Homo sapiens: one gene and its partners. The protein of the gene in region 1 purifies or fractionates together with the protein of each later gene. This does not show direct contact. Each region holds a gene or a part of one and is shown in the gene's direction. Other genes may lie near its edges.

Evidence for each region.
Region 2: the proteins of SGIP1 (region 1) and RALGAPB purify together in Homo sapiens (affinity purification with mass spectrometry; one large-scale study listed by BioGRID and IntAct). This does not show direct contact.
Region 3: the proteins of SGIP1 (region 1) and PADI3 purify together in Homo sapiens (affinity purification with mass spectrometry; one large-scale study listed by BioGRID and IntAct). This does not show direct contact.
Region 4: the proteins of SGIP1 (region 1) and RALGAPA1 purify together in Homo sapiens (affinity purification with mass spectrometry; one large-scale study listed by BioGRID and IntAct). This does not show direct contact.
Region 5: the proteins of SGIP1 (region 1) and CRYBG1 purify together in Homo sapiens (affinity purification with mass spectrometry; one large-scale study listed by BioGRID and IntAct). This does not show direct contact.
Region 6: the proteins of SGIP1 (region 1) and REPS1 purify together in Homo sapiens (affinity purification with western blotting, with the first as the bait; one study listed by BioGRID). This does not show direct contact.
Region 7: the proteins of SGIP1 (region 1) and SPAG6 purify together in Homo sapiens (affinity purification with mass spectrometry; one large-scale study listed by BioGRID and IntAct). This does not show direct contact.

Annotation. Positions count from the first base shown.
Region 1 is NC_000001.11:66,732,570-66,736,936, forward strand, and holds part of SGIP1 (SH3-containing GRB2-like protein 3-interacting protein 1), read left to right. Parts: intron 1-1,178; coding exon 1,179-1,311; intron 1,312-4,367.
Region 2 is NC_000020.11:38,549,089-38,553,455, forward strand, and holds part of RALGAPB (ral GTPase-activating protein subunit beta), read left to right. Parts: intron 1-1,982; coding exon 1,983-2,135; intron 2,136-4,367. UniProt on the Homo sapiens protein: Non-catalytic subunit of the heterodimeric RalGAP1 and RalGAP2 complexes which act as GTPase activators for the Ras-like small GTPases RALA and RALB.
Region 3 is NC_000001.11:17,255,164-17,259,530, forward strand, and holds part of PADI3 (protein-arginine deiminase type-3), read left to right. Parts: intron 1-2,082; exon of another isoform or gene 2,083-3,835; intron 3,836-4,367. UniProt on the Homo sapiens protein: Catalyzes the deimination of arginine residues of proteins.
Region 4 is NC_000014.9:35,799,102-35,803,468, reverse strand, and holds part of RALGAPA1 (ral GTPase-activating protein subunit alpha-1), read left to right. Parts: intron 1-4,367. UniProt on the Homo sapiens protein: Catalytic subunit of the heterodimeric RalGAP1 complex which acts as a GTPase activator for the Ras-like small GTPases RALA and RALB.
Region 5 is NC_000006.12:106,366,849-106,371,215, forward strand, and holds part of CRYBG1 (beta/gamma crystallin domain-containing protein 1), read left to right. Parts: intron 1-4,367. UniProt on the Homo sapiens protein: May function as suppressor of malignant melanoma. It may exert its effects through interactions with the cytoskeleton.
Region 6 is NC_000006.12:138,977,927-138,982,293, reverse strand, and holds part of REPS1 (ralBP1-associated Eps domain-containing protein 1), read left to right. Parts: intron 1-4,367. UniProt on the Homo sapiens protein: May coordinate the cellular actions of activated EGF receptors and Ral-GTPases.
Region 7 is NC_000010.11:22,343,632-22,348,787, forward strand, and holds the start of SPAG6 (sperm-associated antigen 6), read left to right. Parts: upstream 1-1,864; 5' UTR 1,865-1,980; coding exon 1,981-2,005; exon of another isoform or gene 2,006-2,091; coding exon 2,092-2,187; intron 2,188-4,385; exon of another isoform or gene 4,386-4,502; intron 4,503-5,156. UniProt on the Homo sapiens protein: Important for structural integrity of the central apparatus in the sperm tail and for flagellar motility.

The DNA of each region.
Region 1 (4,367 bases):
CTCTTTCCTAACAGATCAGTGACAGTTTTAAAGCCCTGGTGTTTTTTACTCAGCTTTCTTGATTTATGAGACTTCTGGAGGCTGAATCATAGCAACTTACTTTTGACCTGTCTTTTCACTTTTTCACTGTATCAGCCTTCTCTCTTCTCAACCCCTAATTTTCTCTCTTTTTTTTTTAACAAGTTTGCTCATCTTTAAAAACAAAGACAATAATTCTTCCTTTGCAGGGTAGATTTTAATGAAATAGTTTATAATGCCTAGCATATAATAGGTGGTTAAGAAACTGTAACTACTGTTATTGCACTATATAGGATATTCTGAAAGTGAACTGTCAGCAAATGTGTGTGACAAGTAACTGAATCACTTGTGGCCTCAGCTTCCTCATTATACGGGAAATGAGTTATATGTTTGTACACTCTTGCCTGATTCTTTTTATCATTGAGATGAGCATTTGCAAGATAGATTGGGTAAGTGGTCTGTATACAGGCCTCTGAGCAAAGCTAAGACTCTCATAGGGATATAAAACTTCTTAGCTTATAGAGACTCTGCTCTTCTTCTGTATTATAACTACCAAAATTATCATTTAAACTCCAGGATCATCTTATAAGTGAAGTGAAATCTTTGATGATTTAAATGCTCATGGATGAAATATTATGAATGCTGAAAAGGCAGCATGGTAATTTTAGTATCACTCTTTTCTGCTTAGTTGGTGATAAAGACCATGTTTACATTTGGCCAAATATTTCACTGGATAATTTCTGAGAAACTACTGGTCAAAGTAATTCAAAAGTAAATAAACGTATTCAGTTCCTTAATTGCCTTAACTGACTAATTTAGACAAAGCTGGTTTCATAGAAAGGGATATTAAGTTTGAGTTAATAAATAATTCACTCTTTAAAGCTCCCAATTATCATCGCAATTAGTTAATATTACTGAGCACTCACTGAGATTGATAGCAACACAGTAGCTCCTCCTCGTGGATATTAATCTACCAACACCATAGCATTCAGAACTGTATTTGTATGAAAACCACACTACTGTTAATAGATTCATAATAATCTCTACAAATTGTCAAAAAATGGCTGTACATATCAGACGACAATTTGCTAAGATGCTTCGTGTAGGGTTTATATTTGTTTTAAGATGCTACTCAATCATTTTTCTTCCCAAATGAACAGTGATAATACACAAAATGATGCCAATACCAAGGAATTCTGGGTAAACATGCCAAATTTGATGACTCACCTAAAGAAAGTGTCTGAACAAAAACCCCAGGCTACATATTATAACGTTGACATGCTCAAATATCAGGTAAGCCTATTTACATGATCGGTATCTCTTCCACATGACATATTTGTTTTCTAAAGTACCTACTATTGAATAAAAGTAACTAAAGTAACACTTCTTTTAACAGTATTTAAAAGCTATAACTCATTTTTTTAAATGGAAACTTTAAAAGATAACTTGGGGACTACTGACAAAAATATTCATACATATTCTTATTAGTTTAAGCTTACAAGTAAAATATTTTATCACAAAATTAGAGAAATGTGCCACAAAAAAATGAAGTTGCAAAACATTATACTAATTAAGATTATAAGTTTATATTGATAAACAAGATGATTATAATTTTGTTAAGAACATTACTATACTAAAACCTCTTATTTTAAATGATTCAAGGTACACAATCTGCTTTTGTTTTTCTAGTAAGATAGTCCTATGAAAGAATTCTAATAAAATCTAACACTAAGAAATAGTTCAATAATAAAGGAATGTTTGATACTTACAATATATGAGAACTTTCTTTTTGTATCTAGAATTGCCCTTATCTCAAATTATTATTGATATACTAAATAAGCCTAATTCATACCAGGATCCTGATAGTGCCTGAGTCTCTCATTGGTTCCCAGCCACTTGACTGCCTAGATTTTTTTGGTTTTTTTTTTTTTTTTTGAGACAGAGTCTCACCCTATCACCCAGGCTGGAGTGCAGTGGCACAATCTTGGCTCACTGCAATGTCCACCTCCTGTGTTCAAGCGATTCTCCTGCCTCAGCCTCCTGAGTAGCTAGGAATACAGGCATGCACCACCAAGCCCTGCTAATTTTTTGTATTTTTAATAGAGACGGGATTTCACCCTGTTGGCTATGCTGGTCTGGAACTCCTGACCTCAGGTGATCCGCCCGCATCAGCCTCCTAAAGTGCTGGGATTACAGGCATGAGCCACCACACCAGCTGACTCCCTAGATTTTTTTAAACTTTTTTATTTTTTAAATTGACAGGTACAATTGTATGTCTGTATTAGGTACAACATGATATTTTGAATATATGTACGTTATGGAATGACTAAACTAACATACGTATTACCTCACATAGTTATTTTTGTGATGAGAACACTTTCCATTCACTTTAGCATTTTTCAGGAATACAGTATATGGTTATTACCTACAGTCACCACCTTATGCAATCAATCTCTTGAATTTATTCCTCTCATCTAACTGAAATTTTGTGTCTTTTGACCAACATCTCTCTAAACAAACCCCCACCCCACCCCACCACCACTACCTCAGCCTCTGGTAACCACCATTCTACTCTCTAATTCTATAAGATCAACTTTTATTTTTATGTTATTTTATTTTATTTTATTTTATTTTATTTAGTTTTTTGAGATGAAGTCTCCCTCTGTTGCCCAAGCTGGAGTGCAGTGGCACGATCTCGGCTAATAGCAACATCCACATCCTGGGTTCAAGCGATCCTCCTGCCTCAGCCTCCCAAGTAGCTGGGATTACAGGCATGCACCATCATCCTGGCTAATTTTTGTATTTTCGATAGAGACGGGGTTTCACCATGTTGGCCAGGCTGGTCTTGAACTCCCAGCCTCAGATGATCCCCGTTCCTTGGCCTCCCAAAGTGCCACTGTGCCCAGCCAAGATCAACTTTTAAATATTCCACATAAGAGTGAGATCGTGTGGGCCGGGCGCGGTGGCTCACGCCTGTAATCCCAGCACTTTGGGAGGCCGAGGCGGGTGGATCATGAGGTCAGGAGATCGAGACCATCCTGGCTAACAAGGTGAAACCCCGTCTCTACTAAAAATACAAAAAATTAGCCGGGCGCGGTGGCGGGCGCCTGTAGTCCCAGCTACTCGGGAGGCTGAGGCGGGAGAATGGCGTGAACCCGGGAGGCGGAGCTTGCAGTGAGCTGAGATTGCGCCACTGCAGTCCGCAGTCCGGCCTGGGCGACAGAGCGAGACTCCGTCTCAAAAAAAAAAAAAAAAAAAAAAAAAAAAAGAGTGAGATCGTGTGGTATTGGTCTTTCTGTGCCTGGCTCATTTCATTTACCACGTTTTTAATGCATTATAATTTTTTATTAAATATGTTCAGATTATTTTTCTTCAAATGAAGGAAGTTGTACTTTAATAAAAATCAGGACATCTCAAACTTGACTGTATTTCTCAATCAAATGCTGGTTCTGAATTGATGCTAAAAAGAAATATATGTGTATACATATTTAAATAATATAAATATTTATTTATAATATTTACATATACAACCTAGATACATATAAAACCTATACAATCTATAACATATAAAATAACACATTATATTCATAAATATAAATATTTATACAAATATTTTAAATATAAATATTTATACAAATATTTTAAATATAAATATTTATACAAATATTTTAAATATAAATATTTATACAAATAGTTTAAAATATTATATAAAATATGCAAATATATAAATATGATATATGTGAATATAATACGATATATTATATGTGAATATAATATGATATATGTGAATATAATATATAATATATGTGAATATATTATATGTGAATATAATATATTGCGTATTATATGTGAATATAATATATTGCGTATTATATGTGAATATAATATATTGCGTATTATATGTGAATATAATATATTGCGTATTATATGTGAATATAATATATTGCGTATTATATGTGAATATAATATATTGCGTATTATATGTGAATATAATATATTGCGTATTATATGTGAATATAATATATTGCGTATTATATGTGAATATAATATATTGCGTATTATATGTAAATATAGGTAGAGATCATTATTAAATATACATATATGTATTTTGGGGGGTGTTAGGACCTAGCAGATATATATATTAAATATACTTTTTAAATTTTATTTAATTGGTTTAGAATGCCACCCAGGTATCTGTACTTTGTATAAGTTTCTCAAGGGAGTCTATGCATCCTCTGCTTTGGAAAACATTTATTTAAATTGTTGTAAGAAAACCATTTAAAGTGAAATATCTATAAAATGGTGTATTTTCCAGAAATGCAAAAGAATATAATTTTTTCTTGTGAGAA
Region 2 (4,367 bases), on another chromosome or scaffold:
ACAAATGTAATAAAAGTCAGATATATACCATACGTGAAAAAAATTTGGTGGGACTTTTGATTTGTCCGCAACAGGACTTAGTTTGAAATTGTTTTATATGATTTGTTCTTATATAATAATTGGTAATATATTGTATAAATTTTATTTTTTTTATAAAGAGTCAGGGTCTTGTTCTGTTGCCCAGACTGGAGTGCAGTGGTGTAATCATAGCTCACTGCAGCCTCAAGCTCCTGGGCTCCAGTGATCCTCTTGCCTCATCCTCCTGAGTAGCTGAGACTGTAGGCACATGCCATGGCACCCAGCTCATTTTTAAAATTTTTTGTAGAGATAGGGTCTTGCTTTGTTGCCCAGGCTGATCCCAAACTTCTGTCTTCAAGTGATCTTCCCACCTCAGCTTCCCAAAGTGTTAGGATTACAGATGTGAGCTGTCACACCCAGCCTAATTAAAAAAAAAAAAAAAAATATATATATATATACACACACACACACATACATATACACACACACACACACATATGTATGCTGTGTATAATTTAATGAAATCTTTTGGGGTGCAGTTTATTTTATTACATTTGTAATTATGTGAATAATACTTGAGAAGTTGGAAAAATTCAGATAACGAAGAAATTTTAAATCACCTTTACTCACTATCCAGAGGAATATAACCACTGCTAATATTTTATTGGATTTCCTTCCCTTTTTTTCTTTTCATACACAATAACACTTGAATAGAATTTGAGTCATTTTGTATACTGCTCTTTTCATTTATAACATTGTAAGCTTTTATTTCTGCTATTAAAAATATAAAATGTCCAACAATGATAGACTGGATTAAGAAAATGTGGCACATATACACCATGGAACACTATGCAGCCATAAAAAATGATGAGTTCATGTCCTTTGTAGGGACATGGATGAAATTGGAAATCATCATTCTCAGTAAACTATCGCAAGAACAAAAAACCAAACACCGCATATTCTCACTCATAGGTGGGAATTGAACAGTGGGAACACATGGACACAGGAGGGGGAACATCACACTCTGGGGCCTGTTGTCGGGTAGGGGGAGTGGGGAGGGATAGCAATGGGAGATATACCTAATGCTAGATGACGAGTTAGTGGGTGCAGCGCACCAGCATGTCACATGTATACATATTTAACTAACCTGCACATTATGCACATGTACCCTAAAACTTAAAGTATCATAATAAAAAAATGTGATTAAAAAAAATTTAAAATGTGACTTAATATTTCACTAGCATTTGAGAGACACCACAAAATTGGAGCATGTGCCTAAAATCATTTAATATCTTAGATGTCTCTGTTAGATGTGATGTGTTTATCACCCAGTCCTCCATTTTTTTGGAGGGGGCAGTACAGAGCACATCCTGTCATCAACTCTGTAAGCCAGTAAGTTAGCATTGAAGACTGAAGAGGAAGGGGACCAGGAAAGGAGCTAAAATTTGTTTAGGGTTCACCATGTACCCATATACATATTAAAGCATGGATTTGGAGCTGTGAAGACCTAGATTTGGTGCCCATACTCTCAATTAAGCCGTATTAAGATTCTTGTTAAAATCACTTTCTAGAGATGCCCAGTGAAGCCAAACTTGTCTTTAATTATATTGAATGATGTGAGAGCCCCTGGGGAAGAGAGTTTGAGTCTTAAAGCTCCAAAATGCTATACCCATTGGATAACCACTGAATGTGGGAGATTCAGGCCTGCAGCAGTAGAGGTCCACAGCCCATTTGTCAGTCATTAGATCTATAAGAAGTCGATGAATATTTTTAGAAAAATAGAGTACACAGGGGCACAGGCTGCTTCCCTTTGCTGTTATCTGTAGCATTTGCAGGTTCTGAGTGAGTTTTTGTGACATGTAATCCTAGGGAAACACAGGCATCTAAGAGACCAGGGAAATACATGTCATTACAGATGGGTATTGGACCCTGTGTAATAAACATAATGTTACTTGTTTTAACAGCTTTTTGTACCTGAACCTCGCCCAGTTCCTAAAAATGACGTTGGATTTAAATATTCTGTGAAACATCGGCCATTTCCTGAAGAGGTGGACAAGATTCCTTTTGTGAAAGCAGATCTCAGCATTCCAGATTTGCATGAAATAGTCACTGAAGAAGTAAGTACATTATTTTTAGCTGTTGTCAAGGGGATGAATAGAAACATTCTTACGACTTCCTTGGTCAAGACAATGCTTTTAGTGTTGTTGGAGATGATTTTTAAGATGACATGGGCCTCCATCATCCAGGAGGTTGCCATGTTTAAGACGAATATAGATTGTGGCTGATCGAAAGGAACTGCATATCTCTTAGAGGTGTTGCTGGGCTGCCTGGCTGTTCGTGGTAGGTTTCAGTACTGTAGTGACATGATCAGACTCTGGTAGTAGAGTTATTTGGAAAAGGAAGACCAGTTCAGAGACTATTATGAGAATCTAAGTCTTTATAAGAAAGGAAGGACTATTTCACTCATATGGAATTTTAATATATAAAATGTATTGTGGAGGTAGATCCAAGCAGTCTTGAATTGGTGAGGGAAGGAAAAGAGCCAAAGAATTTCAGATTTTGAGCTTGAGTGACAAAGAGATATCAGTGCCATTTACAGAAATGCAGACATTAGGAAGAGGATAGATTTGGGAAGATGGGAAAAATTTATTTGGCTTTGGATTAATTTAGAGAGTTAATTAAGATAACTGTCTCTTAGGTCAAGGGAGAAGAATTTTAAGAAGTCGGGGACAGAAGTATGTCAGGACATGAGAGAACAGAAGAGCAGGAATGGAGGAAGGGCTACACTCTCCAATGCTGGAGAGACCAGGGAGAAGAAGGAATAGAAAAAGTCCCCTGAATTTTGGCATGAAATTTAGGTGACCTTTGAGAACAGGTGTGTACAGTAGGAGGGATAATTCAAAGGGCTGGGGAGTGAATGTATTGAGGGACAGGCAGTGAATAGAAACTACACTGTTAACAGTAAAGGCAAGGGTACAGAATGGGTAATATTATAGCTTAAGGAAATGGCCTCGTTAAGGAAAGAAAAGGCTGATTTTTTTTTTTTTTTCTGAGATGGAGTTTCGCTCTTGTTGCCCAGACTAGAGTACAGTTGTGCATTCTCAGCTCACTGCAATCTCCGCCTCCCGGGTTCAAGTGATTCTCCTACCTCAGCCTCCCAAGTAGCTGTGATTACAGGCGCATGCCACCATGCCTGGCCAATTTTTGTATTTTTAGTAGAGACGGGATTTCACCATGTTGGCCAAGCCGGTCTCGAACTCCTGACCTCAGGTGATCCACCCTCCTTTGCCTCCCCTCAAAGTGCTGAGAATTACAGGTGTAAGCCATCGCACCCGGCCAGAAAAGGCTAGTTTTTAAATATTTTTTTACATTCAAGGATGTGAGGATTATGAACATGCTTATAGATTGAAAGGAAGAAACCAGTAGAGAGGAGTCTGGCTAACACTGTAAGATGGGCAGTGGGACTTACAAGTAATAGAGGCAGTAGGGTCAAGAGTCTAGTCTAGAAAAGAGATGCTTCTAAGACAGAAGGAGAGAGTAGGTGAAGGTTCAGAGACATTTAGAGAGGAAAGGAGGGAAATTGAAGAAGTTTATGAAAATTTTAATCCTGGTTCTTGGCAGTGTAATAGGGGATCCCAGACAGTTCTTAAGAATTGCCAGGCAGTGCAGCTGAGGTTAAGTAGCATTATCTATAGTGAAGTTATTTAACTCACTCTGCTGACTTTCTTCAAAAGTCCTTGGGATCTGGAAGCATAAGTAAAGAATTTGACTGGTGTGGAGATTGACAGGTGTGGAAATTTGGAAGGAGGTTCAACACAGCCATTTAATGTGCTTAAGGAGAGGGTATTTAGCTGTTAGATGTGGGGGCTTCAGTTTAGTTGGGAAGCAGATAAAGCCAGAAGGATGCTAATGGAGTGGGAAAGCAGGGGGAGGGATTGAGTGCCCCACCGCAATAGTAGAGCACGAGCTCAGGAAGTGAAGGGATAGGAGTTGCACAAGGGGGCTTATGATTGGAGAGGGAATTTCAGACTTACAGCCCTGGAAAGCAGGGCACATATCAGGTTCAAGTTTGTTTTCATGGATGGCCAAAATTGTGAAGGTTGAGGAGCTTGTAGAATTCTGAGCCAGGTTGTTAGAAGGATCGTTACTCACCCGGGAATGGAACTTTAAACAAGGATTGATCAGAAGGAAAGGTGGGAGAAGTCTCTAAGAGTACAGTCATGTCATCCATACAGATGAGGAATTAAACACAGGGAGCACGTCAGGGTGAAGATGGACAGTGATCTGCAAGCGAGGGGTGAGAGTGACAACTCTGCCCCCTTTCTTGCCTATTTGAAGGGAACCAGAGA
Region 3 (4,367 bases), about 49 Mb from region 1:
GGCTACTTTTAGGGAGGCCAACTGTTCCTGTTTGTCTGGGACCTTGCAGGTTTTAGCACAGCAAATTCTGTATCCAGGAACAGCCTTAGTCCCAGCAAACTGATGCTGTTGGCCACCCTACCACATTTTACCCCCAACTCACCATCTTAGGCTGGCTGTGCCAGAGGAGCAGTTGAGTTCTCCGGCTGGCTTGGGGGGTGTGGGGCTGGGAGAGCCCTGGACAGGCCTGTGCATGGAAGCCTCAGCGGCGAGGGTCCAAGGCCCTGAGCCCAGGACTGGACCAGAAGCACTGCCTAGAAAGCCCAGAAGCCAGCATGTGACAGCTCAGCCATGCTGGCAGCTCGAGGTGGCCTGGAGAGGAAGGACTTTGTCCAGGTGAGGCTCCAGGTACTTCCCCTGTTCTCTAGGAAATGGGAAGCTAGATCCTCCCGTACCTGATGCAGGTTCTCCTCCCAGCAGCTGCCCCTCTCATTCTCCTAACACACAGCTTTCATGACAGGCATGAGCACTGGACTGGAAGTCAGCAGCCCTACCTTCTAGTCACTTATCTTCTGGGCCTCAGTTTCCCCATCAGTGAAATGAGGGCATGACTTTTGCTCATCCTGAGTGCTTTACCCACACTGGTTCCTTTCATCTTCTCCTCATCCCCACCAGATAGATGTCGATGCTGCGGCTGAGGGAGGCAGTCACTCGCTCAAAGTCACACACCTAATGAGTGGTGGGACTGGGATTTGAACCCAGTTGTCTGGCCCCAGGGACCACAGGCTCAAGTACCTTGCCACGGCTCCATCATGTTGCCCCTCCTGATCAAGAACCAGCGCTGGCTCCCCATTACATAGGGATGAAATGAAAACAAGCTCATTATAGCCTGAGTCTAAACTAGACCTCTTAAGGTTCCACGGTGAAAACACCTTCCCCTCACTTGTGTCTCCTCTTGGTGCCTTCCCTGGGGAACCTGCCCCAGCCACCCAGCCCACTGTCTCATCCTGCCTCCAGACCCGTTTCCTGCACCCTCATTTACTTTAATAACTCCTTCCCTGTCCTGGGCCAATGGTGTTGCAAGCCTTTCCTGTCTATTATCACACTTGAGTTTCATGATTGCCCATGAGGTTGGCCAAGTAGGTGTCATTATCCCACTTTAAGGTGAGGTTAATGGGCCCAGAGAGACTAAGTGATTTAGTCAAGCTCAGCTGGCCGATGTGTGACCCAGCCTGGTCTAAAACCTAATTCTTGACTCTGGTCCCAGCACCACCTGAGCCCTCGGCTTGCAGCCCCTCCCTTCCCCAACCTCAGATGTAGCTTGTTCACCTGTGCTAAGCCCTTGTTCAGACCGTGGTCCTGGGGACCCTCCTGGGCAGGGGTGCTTCAGTCTTCACTGGGGATCCCCCAGCATCTCACACAGAGCCTGGCACATGGAGAGGCAGGGGCGCTGGGCTGAAACACCCTACACCCAGGGGCTGGAGCCTGGGGACTGAGTGGGGTTTTCATACCAGAAGGACCATCAAGGGCGCTCAGCCCTTGCCCATGGACACTGGAGGCCCAAGGAACAGCTTTGGGGTTGAGGGAGTTCCATAAAAAGTGTACAGGCTTCAGCCAGGCGCGGTGGCTCGCGCCTGTAATCCCAGCTGGGAGGCTGAGGCAGGCGGATCACTTGAGGTCAGGAGTTCAAGACCAGTCTGGCCAATATGGTGAAACCCTGTTTCTACTGAAAATACAAAAATTAGCCGGACACGGTGGTGGGCTGTGTTGTCCCAGCTGCTTGGGAGGCTGAGGCATGAGAATTGCTTGAACCCGGGAGGTGGAGGTTGCAGTGAGCCAAGATTGCACCACTGCACTCCAGCCTGGGCGACAGAGCAAGACTCTGTCTCAAAAAAAAAAAAAAAAAAAAAAAAAAAAGGCTTCCTTGGGAGATGGAAGGCGAGTGCCTCAGGAGCGTGGCTGAGGGTGTTCCCGAGGGTATGAGAGGCTGCTCTTCCTACCTGGGTTTGTCTTCCTGTGTCTCTTTCCGACTCCCTGTCTCTGACTCTCCATCTCGCTGGGTCTCTCCAAGTCTCTCTGTCCCTATCTCTCTGTCTCTGTGTCTTCATGCCTCTCTCCCTGGTTCTGCCATTTCCCCTGTGGGGGGCTGCCCAGGGCCAAACAGGCCAGAGGGCTCCACCAGCCCTGGAAATTACAGGCTTTGGGAGTAGGGTTGCCAGATAAAATAAAAGATGCCTAGTTAAAATTGAATTTCAGGTAAATAATTAATAATTTTTTTAGTATAAGTGTATCCCAAATACTTCACGGGAGTACCAAACAATGATTGACTGTTCACTTGAAATTCAAGTCCAACTGAGCTTTCTGTATTTTTATTTGCTAAGTCTGGCAGCCCTGCTTAGGAGGAGAAACAGGTGTGTCTGTCCCTCCCAACTGGTGAGGACACCTGACAGGGGCCCAGACACCAGAGTGGGACCTGCCTGATGGAGAGAAGCTTGGGCTTGGTTTATTTCCCTTTTCATAAAAAAGCTGCTTTGAGATGTAAGAGAATCATGTTGGTGGAAGAGTGAAGAGGTTGTTTTGGGGGAGGTCTGCCTTACTCTGAGGGAAGATGGGAAGCGGGGGGAGTGGCCAGCTGTGGAAATTTGGGGTAGTCCCCTACGTATCCTGTGCCTCAGTTTCCCCATGTGTAAACAGGAGTAATTATCTCATCCTGGGGCTGCAGTGAGGATCAGATGAGCTAATGTACAAAAAGGCTTAGGCAGGCCTGCCGTGATAAGAGTGCAGAGGCTGGGGGCTTTTTATGTTATGGTATTGTTGTTATTATTACTCCTGGGGAGGTGGTGGGCAAGAGTGTGGACTGAGGAGCCACATGGCTGGGTTTGGATCCCAGCCCGGCCACAGACCTTGGGCAAGTTACTTAACCTCGGCTTTCTCATCTGTATAATGGGAGACAATAATAGATAGTGCCTCCCTTCTAGGGTTATTGAGAGGATTGCATGATGGGCTGGCACACAGCATGAGCTCAGTAAGTGTCAGTCACTGTTATCCCCCAGGGGCATGCATGCCGCTGCCTCCAGGAGGCCCTCCAACTCGCAGTGGCCTCTCCCTACATGGGTTCCCACTGAGCTGTGATCCTGTGGCCTTGAGCCCCATCTGGCTGCCCTGGACAATGTTGGTCCTCAGCTCCCCAGCGGGATCAACAGTGGGGAGAGCAGTGGGTGGATCTGCCCGCCAGGCAGTACCTGAGTGCACAGTGGGCACCCCACAGTCAAAGGATGCATAGTCTGGTTTCCAAGGAGGAACCCCAGGCTAGGTGGAATGAGGGAAATGCAATCTCAGGGCCAGATAACATCACAGATACTTTAAACCTGCAATTAATTTCTGGTTGTTTGACCAAATCCGGCCAAGTTTCCCGGGTGACACTGCAGAGCTGTGGAACAGCATGGGCTTGGAGTCAGACCTGTTGCACATCTGGCTCTGCCATGTGATGCAACCTCAGGCTTGTCACGAGGCCTCCTTGAGCCTCAGTTGCTAATATGCCAAATGGGGATGATATTGCTCACCTTACAGCTTGTAAGAGTGGAGGGAGCTGCGTGCGCCAGGTGCCTGGCATGCAGCGGGCACTCAACCAGATTGAATTCCCTTCCCAGGGAAGAATTCAAGGATATCTTCCCACCCACTAAGGAGACATGTGATGGGATCTGGGGTGAGAATTGCTCTTTTTAAAGCTCTCAGAACTGTAAGGGGCTCCACCCACCAATGGCTGGTGTTCACTGAGCTCTTCGTGCCCAGACCTGCACTGGGGATTTATCGAGCACATGGCTGGCTTCTGACTTCCGAAGAGCTCGCCATTCTGGTGAGTGGTAAAGAAACTCACAAGGGAAATGTTAATGAACACAGGGGCTTAGAACATCAGACTGTGTGTATGTTTTTTTGTTTTGTTTTGAAACAGGGTCTTGCTCTGTCGCCCAGGCTGGAGTGCAGTGGTGCAATCTTGGCTCACTGCAACCTCTGCCTCCTGGGTTCAAGCGATTCTCCTGCCTCAGCCTCCCCAGTAGCTGGGATTACAGGCATATGCTACCACGCCTGGCTATTTTCTTGTATTTTTAGTAGAGACAGGGTTTCACCATGTTGGCCAGGCTCGACCTCAAGTGATCCGCCCGCCTCGGCTTCCCAAAGTGCCTGACCTCAAGTGATCCATCCGCCTCGGCTTCCCAAAGTGCTGGGATTAAAGGAGTGAGTCACCACGCCCGGCCGACTGTGTATATGTTTGTGTGGGGTCCAGGCTTGACTCGCAGGAGCTTACTGTGAGGATCTGAGGGGACTGGGTGGCCAAGGAAAGCTTCCTGGAGGAAGCAGGGCTTGAGCCAAAGCTCAAACATCTGAGC
Region 4 (4,367 bases), on another chromosome or scaffold:
ATTTTTAATTTATTTTTTTTATTTTGTATCTAAAATCTTTGCCTAACCCATGATCACAAAGATTTTCTTCTATGCTTTTTTCTAGAAGTTTTACAGTTTTAGGATCTATTTTCCTCTATGATTCATCTGAGTTTTAACTATGGTATGAGGTGGCTAGAAGTTTACGTTTTTGCATGTGAATATCCAGTTGTTCCAGCTCTGTTTGTTGAAAAAGGCTATCTTTACTGAATTGCCTTTGTACTTTTGCCAAAATTTAGTTTTCCAGAAATATGTGTGGGCCTATTTCTGGACTCTTATTTTGTTCCAGTGATCTGTTTATCTTTGTTGGTGCCAGTACCGCAGTGTTTGATTACTGTAACTTTATAATAAATCTTGAAATCAAGTAGTGTTGTCCCTCCTACTTTGTTCTTCCTTTTCAAAGTTTCTTTTTTTCCCAAATGCCAGGTCCTTTACATTTCCATATGAGTCTAAAGATTAGTTGAGCTTGGTGTGGTGGCTCACACCTGTAATCCCAGCACTTTGGGAGGCTCAGGTGGGCAGATTGCTTGAGCCCAGGAGTTTGAGACCAGCTTGGACAACATGCTGAAACCCCATCTCTCCAAAAAAGAGAAAAAAAAGAAATAGCTGGGCATGGTAGTGTGTGCCTGGGATCCCAGTCACCTGGGAGGCTGAGGTGAGAGGATCACCTGGGCCTGGGAGGTCGAGGTTGCAATGAGCCATGATTGCACCACTGCACTCCAGCCTGGGTGACACAGTGACACTGTATTTTTTTTTTTAAAGGTCAGTTTCTTAAAAAAAAAAAAAACCCACCACCACCAAAAAACCTATTGGGATTTTGGTTGGGATTATGTTGAATCTATAGATCAATTTGGGAAAATTGACGATATTGAATACACTGATTCATGAACAAGGCGTTTCTCCACCTACTTAGGACTTCTTTAATTTCTCTCAGCAGTGTTTTGTAGTTCAGTGTGCAGGTCTTATACATCTTTTGTCAGACTTATACCTAAATACTTTCTACTTTGATCTTTTGTAAATGTTACCTTTATATCTATTTCTGATTGGATCTCATATCAGGAAATACCACTGATTTATGTATAGTGAGCTTATGTCCTACAAACCTGCTGAACTGACTTAGTTCTGTTATTTATTTATTTTTTTGAGACAGAGTCTCACTCTGTTGCCCAGGCTGGAGTGCAGTGGCATGATCTCAGCTCACTGCAACCTCCGCCTCCCAGGTTCAAGCAATTCTCCTGCCTCAGCCTACTGAGTGGCTGGGATTACAGGCACACACCACTGAGCCTGGCTGATTTTTGTGTTTGTAGTAGAGACGGGGTTTCACCATGTTGATAAGGCTGGTCTCGAACTCCTGACCTCGTGAGCCACCTGCCTTGGCCTCCCAAAGTCCTGGGATTACAGGTGTGAGCCACAGCACCCAGCCAGTTCTGTTAGTTTTTTGTAGATTCTTTTGGATATTTTTCATAGAGAATCAGTCTGCAAATACAGTTTTACTTCTTCCTTTCTAATCTGGATGCCCTTTATTTCTTTTTCTTGCCTTACTGAAGTGACTAGAACCTCCAATGTGACATAGATTAGAAGTAATGAGAGTGGGCAGTCTTGTCTTGTTCTTGATCTTAGGGGTAAAGCAATCGATTGATTTTTTTCACTGTATAATATGATCCTAACTGTAGGTTTTTTGTAGATGCCCTTTATCAGATTTAGAGAGTTTCATTCTATTCCTGGTTGGCTGAGGGTTTCTATCAGGAATGGATGTTGGATTTATTGAATGCTTTTTCTGTTTCTGTTGGTATAAACAGAAGATTTCATCTAAGTTGTCAAATTTATAGGTATAAATTGTTGATTATACTCTCTTATTATCCTTTTAATATTATAGGATTCATGTCCAGGCATGGTGGCTCATGCTTATAATCCCAGCACTTTGGGAGGCCAAGGCGGGTGGATCACTAGAGGTCAGGAGTTCGAGACCAGCCTGACCAACATACTGAAACCCTGTGTGAACTAAAAATACAAAAGTAGCTGGACCTTGTGGCGCATGCTTGTAGTCCCAGCTACTAGGGAGGCTGAGGCAGGAGAATCACCTGAACCCAGGAGGCAGAGGTTGCAGTGAGCCAAGATTATGCCACTGTACTCCAGCCAGGGCAACAGAGCGAGACTCTATCTCAAATGTGTGTGTGTGTGTGTGTGTGTGTGTGTGTGTGTGTGTCTGTGTATATATATATAGCAGGACCCATGGTAATGTTATCCTTCTCGTTTCTTGTCTGATAATTTGTCTTTCTTTTCCTGATCAGCCTGACTAGAGTCTTATCGCTTTTATTGATCTTCTAAAAGAACTATCTTTTGGTTTTATTGATTTTTCCGTGTGTGTGTGGTTTTTTTTTTTTTTTTAATTGATGTCTGCTTTGGTCTTTGCTATTTTCTTTTTTATTTTTGGAGGCGGGACGCAGGAGACAGAGTTTCGCTCGTCGCCCAGGCTGGAGTGCAATGGCGCAATCTTGCCTCACTGCAACCTCCGCCTCCCAGGTTCAAGCTGTTCTTCTGCCTCAGCCTCCCGAGTAGCTGGGACTACAGGCATGCGCCACCCCGCCTGGCTAATTTTTGTATTTTTAGTAGAGACAGGTTGTTACCTTGTTGGCCAGGCTGGTCTCAAACTCCTGACCTCAAGTGATCCACCAGCCTGGGCCTCCCAAAGTGCTGGGATTACAGGTGTGAGCTACCATGCCTGGCAGTCTTTGTTACTTTCTTTCTTCTACTTAGTTTAGTTTAATTTGCTCTTTTTGTTGTTTCATAAAGGGAAGCTGTGATTATTGATTTGAAACTGTTCTTCTTTCTACTGTAGGCATTTGGTGATAAAAAATTTTCCCCTAACTAGCATCTCACAACTTAGAATATTTTGTATTTTCATTTTCATTTAGTTCCAAAATACTTTCAACTTTCCTTTTGATTTTTTTTAATCCATGGGTTATTTACAAGTCTGTTCTTTAGCTTCACATATTTATGGATTATTCAGATACCTTTTGGTTGTTGATTTCTAATTCAATTCCATTGTAGTTAGAAAACACTATTTTTTATAACCTGAATTATTTAAAAGCTAATGAAATTTGTTTGATGGTCCAGAGACATTTTAACTTGATAAATTTCTTGTATGCACTTGAAAGGAATATATATTCTGCTCTTGGTAGGTTAGGTGTTCGAAAAATGTCAATTAGGACGAGTTGCTTGTTAGTGTTGTTCAAGTCTTCTCTGTCCTTACTGAATTTCTGTCTAGCTGTTTTCATCAAGTACTGAGAGAAGAGGGCTGAAGTTTCTGACTGTAATTGTGGGTTTTGTCTGTTTTCTTTTGAACTTCTATCAGTATTTACTTCATATGTTTTGAAGCTCTGTCATTAGCTGCCTAAACCTTTAGGATTATTTCTTTTTGATGAATTGACTTCTTTATCATTTTGAAATGATATCTTTCTCCCTGGTAATAGTCTTTGCTTTGGAATCTACTTTGATATTAATATAGCCATTGCCACTTTTCATTTGATTAGTGTTAGCAGGATATATATATATTCCCATCTTTTAAATCTACTTGTGTTTTTATATGTGAAGTGGGTTTATATTGTTGGCAGCATATGGTTGGGTCTTTTTTATCTAACCTAATTATCTATGCCTTTTAATTGAGATGTTTGGATAGTTACATTTAACATGATTGTTGATATGGTTAGGTTTGAGTTTGTCATCTTTCTATTTGTTTTCTGTTTGGCCTGTCTGTTCCTTAGTACCCTTTTTTCTCCCTTCTTTTGAATTAGTTGAGTAAATTTTATGATTATTTTCCCTCGATTTATTATTTCAGTGACTGCTTTATGATTTATAGTATATACCTTTTTTCTTTTTTTTTTTTTCTGGGACCGAGTCTCGCTCTGTTGCCCAGGCTGGAGTGCAGTGGTACGATCTTGGCTCACTGCAACCTCCGCCTCTCAGGTTAGAGCGATTCTCCTGCCTCAGCTTCCCAAGTAGCTGGGATTACAGGCACGCATTGCCACGCCCAGCTTATTTTTGTATTTTTAGTAGAGACAGGGTTTCCCCATGTTGGCCAGGCTGGTCTCGAACTTCTGACCTCAGGTGATCCACCTGCCTCAGCCTCCTGAAGTGTTGGGATTACATGGGTGAGCCACTGTGCCCAGCCTATAGTATACATCTTTAACTTGCCAGAGTGTACACCTTTAAGTGATACTATACCACTTCCCATGTAGTATAAGAACCTTGTAAGAATTTACTTCCATTTCTTCACCCAACCTTTATGCTTTTGTTGTCATATATTTTACTTATCATGTTATCAGCCATACACTATATTATTTTGTTTA
Region 5 (4,367 bases), on another chromosome or scaffold:
TAATGGTAGTAGTATTAATACATACATTGTTACTTTGTGAGTGGAGTAAAAACTTCAGAGGCCCAGAAGTCGTAACCAGGTCTGTTAAGCTTTGAAGTACCTTTGAGTATTTGGATGTTCATGTTGGTCTCTAAAAGGGAGACCCTTCATGCGCTCTCAGTGCCTTAAAAGTCTTAATATATCTCACTGAGGAAGCCAAGGCTAAACTTTCTACTTGACATTACAGGAGTTTTTCCCAAAGGGATTTTGGAGTCTGAGTTTAGCATACGATAATCATTTGCCACTTATCTCTGTCATTGAATTACTTTATCCCCCCTCTATTTCCACACTTTCCATCACAATCTACTCTCCATAATCAAGTGGCAGTGACATAAACCCTTTTGGGGACCTTTAGTAAGACCTTCGAAACTTGAGTTCACTTCTTTTTTCTTCTTTAGCTCTTTTTTAAAAAAATATTGGGCCAGGTGTGGTGGCTCACACCTGTAATCCCAGCACTTTGGGAGGCCAAAGTGGGCGGATCACAAGGTCAGGAGATCCAGACCATCCTGGTCAACATGGTGAAACCCCGTCTCTACTAAAAATACAAAGATTAGCTGGGCGTGGTGGCATACGCCTGTAATCCCGTCTACTTGGGAGGTTGAGGCAGGAGAATCACTTGAACCAGGGAGTCAGAGGTTGCAGTGAGCCAAGATTGTGCCACCGTACTCCAGCCTGGCAACAGAGCCAGACTCTGTCTAAAAAAAAAAAAAAAAAAAAATCAAATACATATATACTCCCTTTTTCATTAATAGTTTTGCCAGAATGTATGGCTTTTGATTATAAATCTTATTTTTAGGTCAGCATGGTGGCTCATGCCTGTAATCCCAGCACTTTGGGATGCTGAGACAGGAGGATTGCTTGAGCCTAGGAGTTCAAGACAGCCTAGGCAACAAACTCAGACCCTGCTTATCCAAAAAAAAAAAAAAAAAATTAGCCAGGTGTGGTGGCACACACCTGTGGTCTCAGCTACTGGGGAGGCTGAAGTGGGAGGATCATTTGAGCCCAGGAGTTATGATCATGCTACTGCACTCTAGCCTGGGTGACAGAGTGAGACCTTGTCTCTAAAATAATCGTAATAATAAATGAGTACATCTTTTTTGTAAGCTGAGATAGTGAGTTGCTGCTGTAGTATTTGTCCACAATTAAAACAATGTAGTAAACATATTAGATATTGAAATAGTTTCTAATTCCTAATAGTCATTCAAAATACATATCTTACTATGAACATTAAAAATACATATCTGAGCCAGGCATGGTGGCTCACACCTATAATCCCAGCACTTTGGGAGGTGGAGGCAGGTGGATCACTTACTTGAGGCCAGGAGTTTGAGAGCAACCTGGTCAACATAGCGAGATCCCATCTCTTAAAAAAGATACATACACACACATACACACACACACACACACATCTGTCTTAAAGTTTGAGTTCAGCTAAGGGGTCAGTTATGTTTCAGGAATGTCCATGCAGAAGAAAAGTGATTTATGTATTGAAAATCTGTGTCTGGTCAACATGAGAAGATCGTTTGAAGCTTGAATGGTGTGTTCTTCTGTCTACCTTGAAAAACTTGTCCCAAAGTGAGTTTTCAAGATACAGGATGTATGACTGTCTAATGCTTGTGAGGAGCTTAGCAAGAATGACCAGCGAATTGCTTATGAGTCTCATTAGCTCATTTACAGTTGCCTTAAAACATAGCTGCATTGGGCTAACCCAAATGCCTCATCAACATACCTGTACAGATTCAAATATATGAGAAGTCTTCCCTCTAGAGAGTGAGCCCTTGCTTAGTGCTGCCTTTACAGCACTGTGCATCTTCTGGATTGTTCCGTTCAGTGGAAGAGAAGCAATGACCCCTCATAACAGAGACCTAGATTGAGTTGCTAATTATTCAGCCAGTATACAGTATATACTATAGTGTGGTTACTGAGATACTGAATAGTTTAAGAGTTTCTGCCATAATTAGTACCTCACCTACTACTTAAAAAAAAATAAACAACCATAACTTAATTCATGTTTTCAAAAAAAATTTAAAGCTTGAAGGAACCATATTTGTAACAACAAAATGTCACTTAAAATGATGGAGCCTATCAATATATTGTTACCTATGCAAGAACTCCCTTTACAGAGCTTGAAGTAATGCTAGTAATGTGACACATAATATATTTTATTCATGATTTGTCATTTAAATGTGTTCAGAATACTGATGGATTCATAAATATCTCATGAAAGCATACATTTTGACAAAGTACCAGGAGGCCCAAGGACATACAAATGGGGCAGAGAATCAGAATCCATTTGCAGTGTCCCCGACCTCTCTCACTGGCATGTTATAGACAAGTAAAGGTTGCACCCATAGCTAACACACACAAAAAGAAACACAATTAACAAGTACCTTTTGTTTGTTACCTTCTCATAAATGGCAATTAAATGAGTAAAAGTAGGTTGGTGTTAAGCTTGGCAAAAGATACTGTGGGGAAGAAAGTTGGCTGCTGGTTGTGTTTATTGTTTGTGCCATTTCAAGCTAGCAACCCTAACTGAGTCTCAGTCATTAGAATTTAGGTTTATTCCAAAGGTAATATCGACAGCTCAAATATGAGATTTGGCCAACAGTTACATAAAGTCACCATGCAGAGTACACCTCTTAATTTTTTTCAAATTTGTTTATAAGTAGTAGCATAAGCTCATGATAGTCTTTGGATTCGTTTTTTAATCTTATGATTAGGATCAAGGGTCAAAATAATATATGCTGCATATAAGATAAGAAAATAGAGGAAGCATGTGCTTTATAATAACTTCAGACCATGTCTGTGAAAACATTGTTTCCCATCAATATTTGATTGAGAGATGCAGTTTATTCAATATGCACTATGTATCAGACACTGTTCTAAGTGCTTTACAAATATTAACCCACTACAGTTAATTTATAACTTTCCTCAGAGGTAGGCACTATTATTAGTCCCATATTGAGGAAAAATCAGGCACAGAGGGGTATGATTATTTGGTCAAAGTCACAGAGCTCATTAAGAGTGAGGCTGGGATTCCCCAGCCGGTGATCTTGAGTCCTTGTGGTTAATCACTGCAGGTAAATCCCTGCAAGTTAATCACTGTGGTTAATGGTGCTTTCTTTATATTCTTATATGAGTTCATTTAGCCTCTAGATCTCACAAGTAGAAATTAAAATACATATGATAAATTAAGTTTTGGTACTAGACAATTTCTACGTTAAATAGTGGAAAGAAATATGTTAATTAATAGAAATATAAGTTCATTAAAATCTTAGATGAAAAAAGATTTTAAAACAGAAATTCAAAAGTATATATTATAAATGAAAGTATCATGTGTAGATTCTGAGTTTGGGGCTTCTGCCCAAGCTGTGTCAGAAAAAAGCATTACCAAGAGGTGGACCTACTTCGTACCCCTTCTTCTGCCCTGACACAGGCAGGAGAATGCAAGGTCAGAGATAAGTGGTAGATGGGGGGCCCTCTAGTTGCTGCCCATGCTAAAGAGGCATGGCAGAATTTCTCAAGTAGTTGCTTTACCAGTTGCTGCAGAAAGCTGCTCCTGGCTGCTCTAACTTTAGGCCTCTAGAAGCCCTGCTGCTTGAATCCATTGGTTTTACCTCCTGACTTATTCTTGAGGATTCCCTGGCAATGAATACAGGTTCCACCTTACATTGACCTTACACTTCAAGGATTGTAAACCATTGCTGATACTTTATCCCACTTGAGGCTTATAAGGGTTCTGTGAAATAAGCCCATACCCTCATTCTGAGGATAAGGAAACTGAAGTTCATGGAAGGTAATGCAGGTGGAGGAAGCAGGACTAAAACTCAGATTTTCTGATTTTTTCTTAGCTGTTCTTTTGGGTTCTCTTGCATTGTGTACTATACCTTCACTCCTGGCCTGTACCCACCTTTGACAGGAGCCCAACTGACTCATCTGACTTCCTGATGACTATTCCCCTGGAAATCTTCCCTTAGTTTCATAAACTAACAACGATGAGACTGTCTGATCCCTAGATTGAGTGACTAGTTATTCAGCCAGCACCTATAGTCTGGTTATTGACATACTGGATAATTTCTGGGTTTCTACTATAATTAGTACCTCACCTACTACCTAAAAAAAGCCAACAAAAATAAAAATAACTCAATTCATGATTTTTTAAAAAGCTTGCACAAGCCATATTTTATAACAACAAAATGTCACTTAAAGTGATAGAGCCTATCAGTATGATATTGTACCTATGCAAGAACTCCCTTTACAAGGCTTGAAGTAATGCTGGTGCTGTGACACGTAATATAGTGTATTCATAATTTGTCACTTAAATGTTT
Region 6 (4,367 bases), on another chromosome or scaffold:
ATGGGGAAAAGCAATAACAGTGAAACAAACCATTTTGTTTTTGTCTTGAAACTTGTTTAAATCAATTACAAGATCTGGCATTAGTGATAAGTTTAAAAATAGGAAAGCAGAGCTCATTTCTGTGTTGAAAGTTATAAACTTAATAAGTCTCAGGTTTGTTATTCTGGAGTAGTGGTTTTTAGTTCTGAATCACTAAAATAATTGTAATAAACTACAGAAATAATCTTGCCATAATCACTTACCTATACACAGTTGAAAAAGATACTGTTTGTGAAAGAAGTCACAGTCAATGTGTTTCTGTAGTGTCCTATTTATTTACTTTTAAAATTTCTGTCTTCTTGAGTTTCTTGTGCTAGTTTCAGTCATTTTGTTTGTTTGTTTGTTTGTTTTAATCAATAGCCCAGAGTTAGAGTTTTAGTATATTGGGAATTCGTGCCAAACATTTGATGGAGCGACACAAGAGCATGAGAAGCTGGTATAAAGAGCACTAACTGTGGGAGGCAAGTTCCAGTTCTGGCATCAGCTAACTTTGTAACCCTGAACAAATCACAGAATGTCTGATATAGCTATGGGATTGGGTTTTCATGATTTCTGACTCAAATGAGAGTATCTTTGTGTAGGAGCGGCTAATCTATTCCAGCCACACCCCTTTAAAAGTAGCACAAAGTCTTGTGGTTAGTTGCTCCACTATCTTGACACTGGAACAGGATTATTTGACATTCTTTGAGGAATACAAAGAGGAGATATATACAAGAGGAAACTGATGAAAGGGTCATAAATCCATGGGTGCTTAGTTCTTCAAGGTCGTGAGAATTTGAAATGGGTGATAAGACTTGTCATTTCTGATGTTTTCCCTTATATAGGTTTTATTTTCTGTAGCCTTTCCTATTATAGATGCATCTTCACTCATCTTTTCCCTCTGTGTAAGAAATTTGTCTAATGGAAGTTAAACTGTATACCAGATTTCATTGAGATTTGATAAATTCTAAGACTTAGGCTTTTTAAAATTAAGAATACTACATCTCTTCTGCATTTTGTTTCAAGAATTAGCCAGGTGTTGAATTTGGGGTCTGTCTCATTAAATAATGAAGACAGAATTTATTAGTCTGTCTCTTTTGGGCTGTTGATTCCGTTGAGATTCTGCTGCACGCACTGGACATCTGCTTAGAAAACATAGTTCCACAGAATTTTGCACTTAATTTGTGATTTCCAGCCTTCCCCTAATTGAGTCAAGCTCATCTTATGGACTTCTACATTAATTCAGTTTTAAGGAAGAGCAGGCTGACCTGTGAAATGCTAAACACTTCTGTCTTAAATCAGTTTTAAATACTTTCAACAAAGACTTCTTTGTGGCTGTTCTTTGTATTGGGGGTATACATGCAGTGGTGAAGGATCAAGACATCTTCTCTGACTTGTGCCAATGTCGAAAAGAAAAAGAACTGGCCAGGCGTGGTGGCCTGCACCTGTAGTCCCAGCTACTTGAGAGGCAGAGGCAGGAGGATCACTTGAGCCTGGGAAGTTGAGGCTGCAATGAGACATAGTAAACATAGTAGTGTCATTGCACTCCAGCCTGGGTGACAGAGCAAGTCTCCGTTCCCCCCCCCCCCCGCCCCACCCACAAAAAAAAAAGGAAAAAAGAACTGTGTACAATAATAGAGAATCATTGGGTGGTAGAATCAGAGGAGGTAGTGGGGACCTACTTAGGTGTAAGGGAAGGCCCCTTAGAGGATGCCTGGATGGGGGGTCAGGGGAGGGAGAATAAGGTGTTTCATATAGAGAGAACTGGGAAGGGCCTGAGGCTGTGAAGAGCACAGTGTGTTTAAGGAACTGAAACTGTGGACAAGAGGGGAGAATGGCAGGGACTGCATAAGGCAGGCCCTTGTACTCAGTGATAAGGAATTTGGATTTTAGTGGAAATATACTAAAAGTTTTTATTCGGGGGTGTAGCATCATCTGAATTATATTTTAAAAGATCATGCTGACTGCTGTATGAGCAAAAAGAATACTGGGGGCAAGTGGAAGCAGATACGCTAGTGGATATGCAACAGTCCAGGCAGCAGACAGCAATGGCTTAGATTAGCGAGGTGGCAGTAGGATAGAGAGCAGTGGACATCTGTGAGAATTTTTTAGGTGGTAGAAATACGAAGGCATAAATAGGGTTGGATATGGAACATAAGGGAGGGGAAAGAACTCAAGGATGTTGCTGGAAGTTGCCACTATTGGATGGTTGGAAGAGGAGTGGATTTTGGGGGGGATTGTTTCGTGGGAGAGGTAAGGGTGAATTCAGCAGTTCCCCTTTTGTCTATCTTAGTTCTCAGAAGCCTGTAAGATTGTCAAGTAGGCCTGTTAGAGAGATCTATACATCTTGAGGAATTCAGAGATACTTGGCTTAGAGATGTCAGTTTGAAGATTGTCACTATGTTAGTGATACTTAAGGTAATGAAATAATTGAAGAAAAGATTATAAAGAAGAGAGAAAGATTGACTAGAACTGGAATCCTGAGGAATGCTGAACATTTCTAAGTTGGGTAAACTGGAAGGCTTCTTGGAAGGACGCTAGGAAGCACACAATCAGAGTGGTACAAATTGGGAATGTGTAATATATAGTATTATCATGTCGTGGATGCCAAATAATGCAAGTATTTCAAGGGGGTGGGTAGTCAGCTGTATTGAATTTCACTGAGAGGCTGAGAACATGTGGGCAGGAATGTGGCCATTGGATTTGGCAACCTGGAAGTTATTAGTAACTTCAGTGAGCCAGTTTCATGGACTAGTGTAGATGGATGCCAGATTTGAGTGATTTGAGGGATAAATGATGGCTGAGGAACTAGAGACAGGGTGTATAGATAGCTTTTAAAGAAGTTTACCTATGAAAGGGAATAGATACAGGGTAGAAGCTAGAGATGTATGAGGATATAAAGGAAATCTTTTTGTTTGTTTCTTTTTGAGTGTGAGAAATTCTGCAGAATGATTTTAGTTGTTAGGATTGCTAAGATAAGGGAGATGAGAAGTCCTTGAGAAAGCAGGAGTGGTCAGGATCCTGACTGCACAGAGTCCTTTGATAGGAAGGGGATACTTCTTCAGTTTTTTTTTTTTGTTTTTTTTTTTTTTTTTGTGATGGATTCTCGCTCTGTCGCCCAGGCTGGAGTGCAATGGCCTGGTCTTGGCTCACTGCAACCTCCGCCTCCCGGGTTGAAGCGATTCTCCTGCCTCAGCCATCAGAGTTGCTGGGATTACAGGTGCCTACCACCACGCCTGGCTGATTTTTGTCTTCTTAGTAGAGACAGGGTTTCACCATGTTGGCCAGGCTGGTCTCGAACTGCTGATCTCGTGATCTGCCTGCCTTGGCCTCCCAAAGTGCTGGGATTACAGGCATGAGCCACCGTGCCCGGCCACTTCCTCAGTTTTAACAGTGGGGAAGAAAGAACAACATGGTTACAGACGCAAGTAGGAATATAGATTTAGTGGGTGGAATATAGATTTAGTGGGAGGATGTTCTGGCCTAATGGCTTTTATTTGTTTTCTACAAACTGAGGCAGGATTAACAGTGTAGTAGTAACATAAAATCTTAATATGAAAGTAAGAAAAAAATACATTCACATTAGCTTCAAAGAGGCCTAACATACTTGGGAATAAACTTAAGAAAAGAGTCACCAAGATTTTTGTATTTAAAACTACAAAACAGGGCTGGGCACAGTGACTTATGCCTGTAATCCTAGCACTTTGTGAGGTTGAGGCGGGCAGATCACTTGAGCCCGGGAGTTTGAGACCAGTCTGGGCAACATAGGGAGACCCCTGCCTGTAAAAAAAAAAGATAAAATAAATTAGCTGGGTATAGTGGTGTGCACCTGTGGTCCCAGCTACTTGGGAGGCTGAGGCAGGAGGATGGTTTAAGCCTGGGAGGCAGAGGTCAGGGAGGCAGAGGTCAGAGAGACCCGAGATTGCGCCAATGGACTCCAGCCTGGGCAACAGAGCCAGACCCTGTCTCAAAAAAAAAAAAAGAAAAGGAAAAGAAACAAATAATTGGGCTTTATTAAATATTTTTAAAACTTTTACAATTGAGAAGATACTTAAGAAAGTATAAAAAGATAAGCCACAGATTGGGGAGAAATATTTGCATATTATAAACATGGTAAAGGTCTTTAATCTAGAATATATTTGAAAAATCTTACAACTCACTTATAAGGAAAAAAAAAAAACTGGGCGAAAGCCCATTCTTAGGCTTAAGCCCATTGAATAGGTATTTCACCAAAGACAACAATAAGAATGGCCAATAAGCATATGAAAAGATGTTAACCCCATTAGTCATTAGGGAAATGCAAATTAAATCACAGTGATATACTATCACACACTGACCAGAGTGGCTGT
Region 7 (5,156 bases), on another chromosome or scaffold:
GAGCAAAGATCAAGCTTCTTTAATATGTCCAATTTCAGATATGAAGTAGGCATCCTATATTATGTTTTATCAGGAATAATACAATTTAACTAAAAGATATTGTTAATAACAGATACTCAGACTCTAAAGTAATTTACATAGCTTTTGAACGTATGTTTTCAAAGAACTTAGTAGCATCCCATACTGTGTTATGTTTATAGGTTTAGACCTCTCCCCCTCTATTGAGCTCTTAACACTTTTAAAATGGAAAACAAATAGTAAAGCAGTTGCTAAAAATGGCAGTTGGAGTAGCTTAAGAGTTTGAATTGTTTGTTTAAGGACTGAAACCAAATATAAAAACTTTTAAGGGGATTTTTTTTCATCATTCAACAAGGAACTGAAAATTACAAGGCTTATTTGCAATCTTAATTATTTACTCAATCTGTTTCCTCCCACGTCTCTAAATGGGAACGCATAACTTTAATTTTAAAGGACATATTCCCATAGGGAAATATAGATATCACTGTAAAACTTACGACTTTGAATTAAGTAAAAAGATTGTGGCCATCACTGGCTTTTGAGCTGCAGAAGCAGAAGACATGTACCTGCCCTTCGGGGGTATTAGGGACCCGACTAAACACACTTATTCTTCTCTCTGATTGCTGGACCATTCCCCAACTATTTGGAGCTCCACAAAGTATCAGGACTTCATCAAGAGCTCAGTGAAGGGTGAGATCTCAAAGATAAATATAGAGGACTCATTCCAAATATAGAACCAGTTAAGTTTGCATGCTCCCTTCTGTTGAAGAAATATCAAGGGGTTTCCTGTCTTGGCACTACTTAGCAGCAGCTGCGGCTATGTATCCACTTGACATCTGGTGAAATTGTAGTTTTTGATGGAGGAACATTTAAAGTTGACAACTGTCATTGAAACAACTGGTATATAGTTTTCAAAGACAAGCTAGAAACCAGTAATAGACTAAGTACTTCAATTTTGTTAAAAGAAACTGGGTAAAGGGTTCAAGTTATATAAGATAGGGAAGTCTGGTTTTCCAGGTAAAGGTTCTCTCTCTTTTTCTGTTGGAGATGTCATTCATCAACATAACGAAGCCTAAATTTAAAAGACTAAGACAAAATATTTACAAATCACATAAAAGTGAGGAAACAGCAAAATTAGTAGTCATTAGGAGAAAGCCAGGGAAGACAGGACATTCATCACATCCTTTCCTCATCTGCTTTCCTCACTGAGTCTCTGAGTGCTCATTAAATGCTTTCAATACAGTGTAATTAAGTGTGTGAACATGGTTGTCATGCTCCTCCAGGAATCTTGAAACCAGGAATGCCAGGTATATAACAGCGGGTTACAAAAGAAAACACGGATTCCTAAATCAGTGTTTTACTGTCAGTGCAGTGTTAAATGTCAATGCAACACTTAAGTTGCATTGACATTCATGTGTTGATCGGATTGTACAATGTGACGTGTGAGATTTCTCGGGACCGTCGAAGCTCAGACAACTCCAGGGCTGCAATTTACTCGTCTGGCTGCCCTCGAACCAGGCTCCCTTGGCGCGTGGGGCTCTCCCGGCGCTTGGTCCCGACCCGCGCCGCAGTCAGGATACCACGGCAATCTGGGGTCGCTTTGTAAGGAGCTCCGACCTCCGGGCAGTGCAGGGATACTCGACGGCGCGCGATGTCCCGGCGGCTCCGCGAGCCTGGCGCGCTGAGAGCCCCAGCAGTCCGAGTCCTCGAGCTCGGGCGTCTTCGCGCCGCCGCCCCGCTCAGTGCGCCCAGGCACCGCGGCCGTGACGTCACGCCCGGGACTGGCCGTTGCAGCAAGACGGCCGCGTTCCGGTTCCGGTAGGTTGCCCGGGAGACGCGGGTACACAGAGAAGCGGCTCCCGTCGGAGGCCGAGTCGTCGCCACGATCGCCCCCTTGGTGGACTCGCAGGCCGAGCGGCTTCCCCGCAGAGCTCGAGGAGGGCAGACGGCGGCGGGGGCGCCATGAGTCAGAGGCAGGTGCTGCAAGGTAGGGCCGAGGCGGGCAGGTGCCCTAACTAGCTGGCGCCGAGGAGACCCGGGTGCGGTGGGCTCCACCGACTCTCTCTCCCGCAGTGTTCGAGCAATACCAGAAGGCCAGGACCCAGTTCGTGCAGATGGTGGCGGAGCTGGCGACTAGACCCCAAAACATCGAGACGCTGCAGAACGCGGGTGAGCCCGGAGCCCGAACCCCCGTCGCCCCCCGCGCACTGAGTCCCCGACGCCTCCGCCCCGCTGCCCTGCCCGTGGAGCTCTTGGGGAGCCGCAGTGTGGGGACCGGAGTTCGCAAAAGCATCCATTCTTTTCAGCGGGTCTTTGGGGGTCAGGCCGAGAGGGTGAAGCTTCCAGATGGTTGTGGGAGGTGCGCGTTGTCCCTGTTTCCATCTTCATTGCACACAGGCAAGTGTCAGGTTGAAAGTCGAGGCCCTAGGAATTGCCTGGAGTCATTTTACGTGAATGGGACTCTACCCTAATGAGACCCATTTTATCCAAGTGCCATTTTGCATGCCACCCTGCCTTTGATCACCTTCGACTTCCTCACAGCAAAGCAATTCCAGTGGTTTAGACGTGATTTCTCGTCTTGCTTTAGTGAAAGGGGAATGATATGCTTGAATCTTTTCCAAGAAATTCCAAGTAGGTAGAGACCAGACTTTGCGAAATCCTTATGGCGCGTTCCTTCTACTCCTCAGTCCGGACTCTTGCAGATGTGAGAGGGGGAGAGAGGGGGAGAGGGAGGGAGAGAGATCTTCTTATCTCATAACATAAACTGATAAGAGAAAATGGTTCTTCTTCTTCTTCTTCTTCTTCTTCTTCTTCTTCTTCTTCTTCTTCTTCTTCTTCTTCTTCTTCTTTCTTCTTCTTCTTCCTCTTCTTCTTCTTCTTTTCTTCTTTCTTCTTTCTTCTTCTTTTTTTTTGGATGATTCTACCACCATCTGAACTGTAAGGTAGCATTTTATCACTACTGTGTCATGAGAAATCTTCAGTTTATAGGATGTGATCTTTAAAACTAACACATAATTTAAACAATTAACATGTTGACAGCAAGAATACTTAAGTGTAATGATTACTCTGGGTTTCTTTGAGGGGAATTACTACTGCACCTATGTGATACTTCGTTTTGTCACTAGGATTTTTGGCATTTATTCCTTGTGTGTTTTTATTGGGGGGCATGTATTTACAATAAAGTATATTTTATAATCTTCTAAACGCATTTTAGTTTGAAATAATTGTAGATTCACAACTGTAAGGGATAATACAGAGAGATCCCGTGTACCCTTTTCTCAGTTTCCCCAATGGTAACATTTTTCAAAACTGTAGTGCAATATCACAAGGAGGACATTGACATTGATAAAAATTCGTTGATCTTATATAGGTTTCCTCCTTTTAATTGTTCGTGTGTGTGTGTGTTTTGTCCTATAGAATTTTATTCCGTGCGTATCCACCACCAGCACAGTCAAGATACAGAACACTTTCATTGTCACAAGGATCCTCTCTCTTGCCCTTTTATAGCCACACACACCTCCTGCTATCCCTAACCCTGGACAACCACTAATCTCTTCTCCATTTCTAAAATTTTGTCATTTCAGAATTGATAATCCTTTGTTCTATAGTTGTTTTATATGGGTTGATTTTCTGTATTCTGTGTGTGTGTATGCACCCGTACTCCTCCAAGTACCCAGAACAATACTGGGCACACAGTATTTCATATACACAGACTAACACAGACTAAGGTATTAGAACATGTTACATTTTAGAAGTGTATTTAAAAGTAATTTTAAAGTGTAAACTTTTAAAGTTTTTTCTCTCAGTCCCTCTCAATGACCTTTGTGAATGGACATTTACTACTTAACAAAGATTTAGTTTCTGGACAATATGAATATAGCCAAACTAAAACTTTTAAAATGGGAAAATAATTGATATTATTTTCAAATTTTAATACTGAGATGTTAAAGTATACATAACTTTTAAGATACGGAGTATCATGTTTTAGTGAGTAGTGGCAGGTTAGCTCCTCCCATAAGAGTGCAATGTAGACTTCACAATGGAACTTAATCCAAATTGACTGTATAAGTGGCTTAGATATAAGATTCTACACTTATGGTCTGGCTTAGGAAAGATGAATACGAAAGGAATATAACTTTATGTTTTGAAATTCTCTGCACTTGACTAATATCTGGGTAGCATGCTAAAATGTTTCTTTTCCTGAGGGACTTATTTTTAACAAATTTCATGTTATCGAGATTCAATTCAAGCATTCCTTTAGCAATTTTAAATACAGACATAATGAATATTCAATGTATTTATTCTTTTGATTAAAAAAGAACCTGTAAACTTTGTTATGAAAACTTTTCTTTCTTTCTTTGAGACAGAGTCTTGCTCTGTTGCCAGGCTAGAGTGCAGTGGCATGATCTCGGCTCACTACAACCTCCGCCTCCCAGGTTCAAGCGATTCTCCTGCCTCAGCCTCCTGAGTAGCTGAGACTACAGGTGTGCGCCACCATGCCCAGCTAATTTTTGTACTTTTAGTAGAGACGGGGTTCCAGCATGTTGGCCAGGATGGTCTCGATCACTTGACCTTGTGATCCACCCGCCTTGGCCTCCCAAAGCACTGGGATTGCGCCCGGCCAGTTTTCTTTCTTAATAGTCAGTTTACTTAACCATTCAAATGATTTGTTCTTTTAAAAAATTACAATTTTAAAAAAGGGCTTTAGAATGAGCCTCAGTATGTGTAAATCAATTATACATTATGGTCAAACTTTTTTTCAGTCAAATGCCTTCATTTGGTAGCTTCAGATACCAATGCATATTACTCCTGACTTTGACATACTGTCTACATACCTGGAAGATTTTGTTTGTTTTCTCATTTTTCCCTCCAATATGCTAAGTAAATATATATCATGGATCCAAGATAATGTAAAAAATATTTTCCATATGGGTATCATGATCAAACCAGTAATTCCCTTGTTAAGAATTTTTGAATTTATTCTATGTGAAAGGAATATTAAAGGTGAAAATTGTCAATGGAGTTTTTATTTCATTTTAAGTCTCCAATCTTTTTTATTGTGTTTTTTATACACTAATAAGAGAATTTGCTTTATTAAATATGTCCAAAGTAATTGCCAAAGCAGACAAAGTATGTTG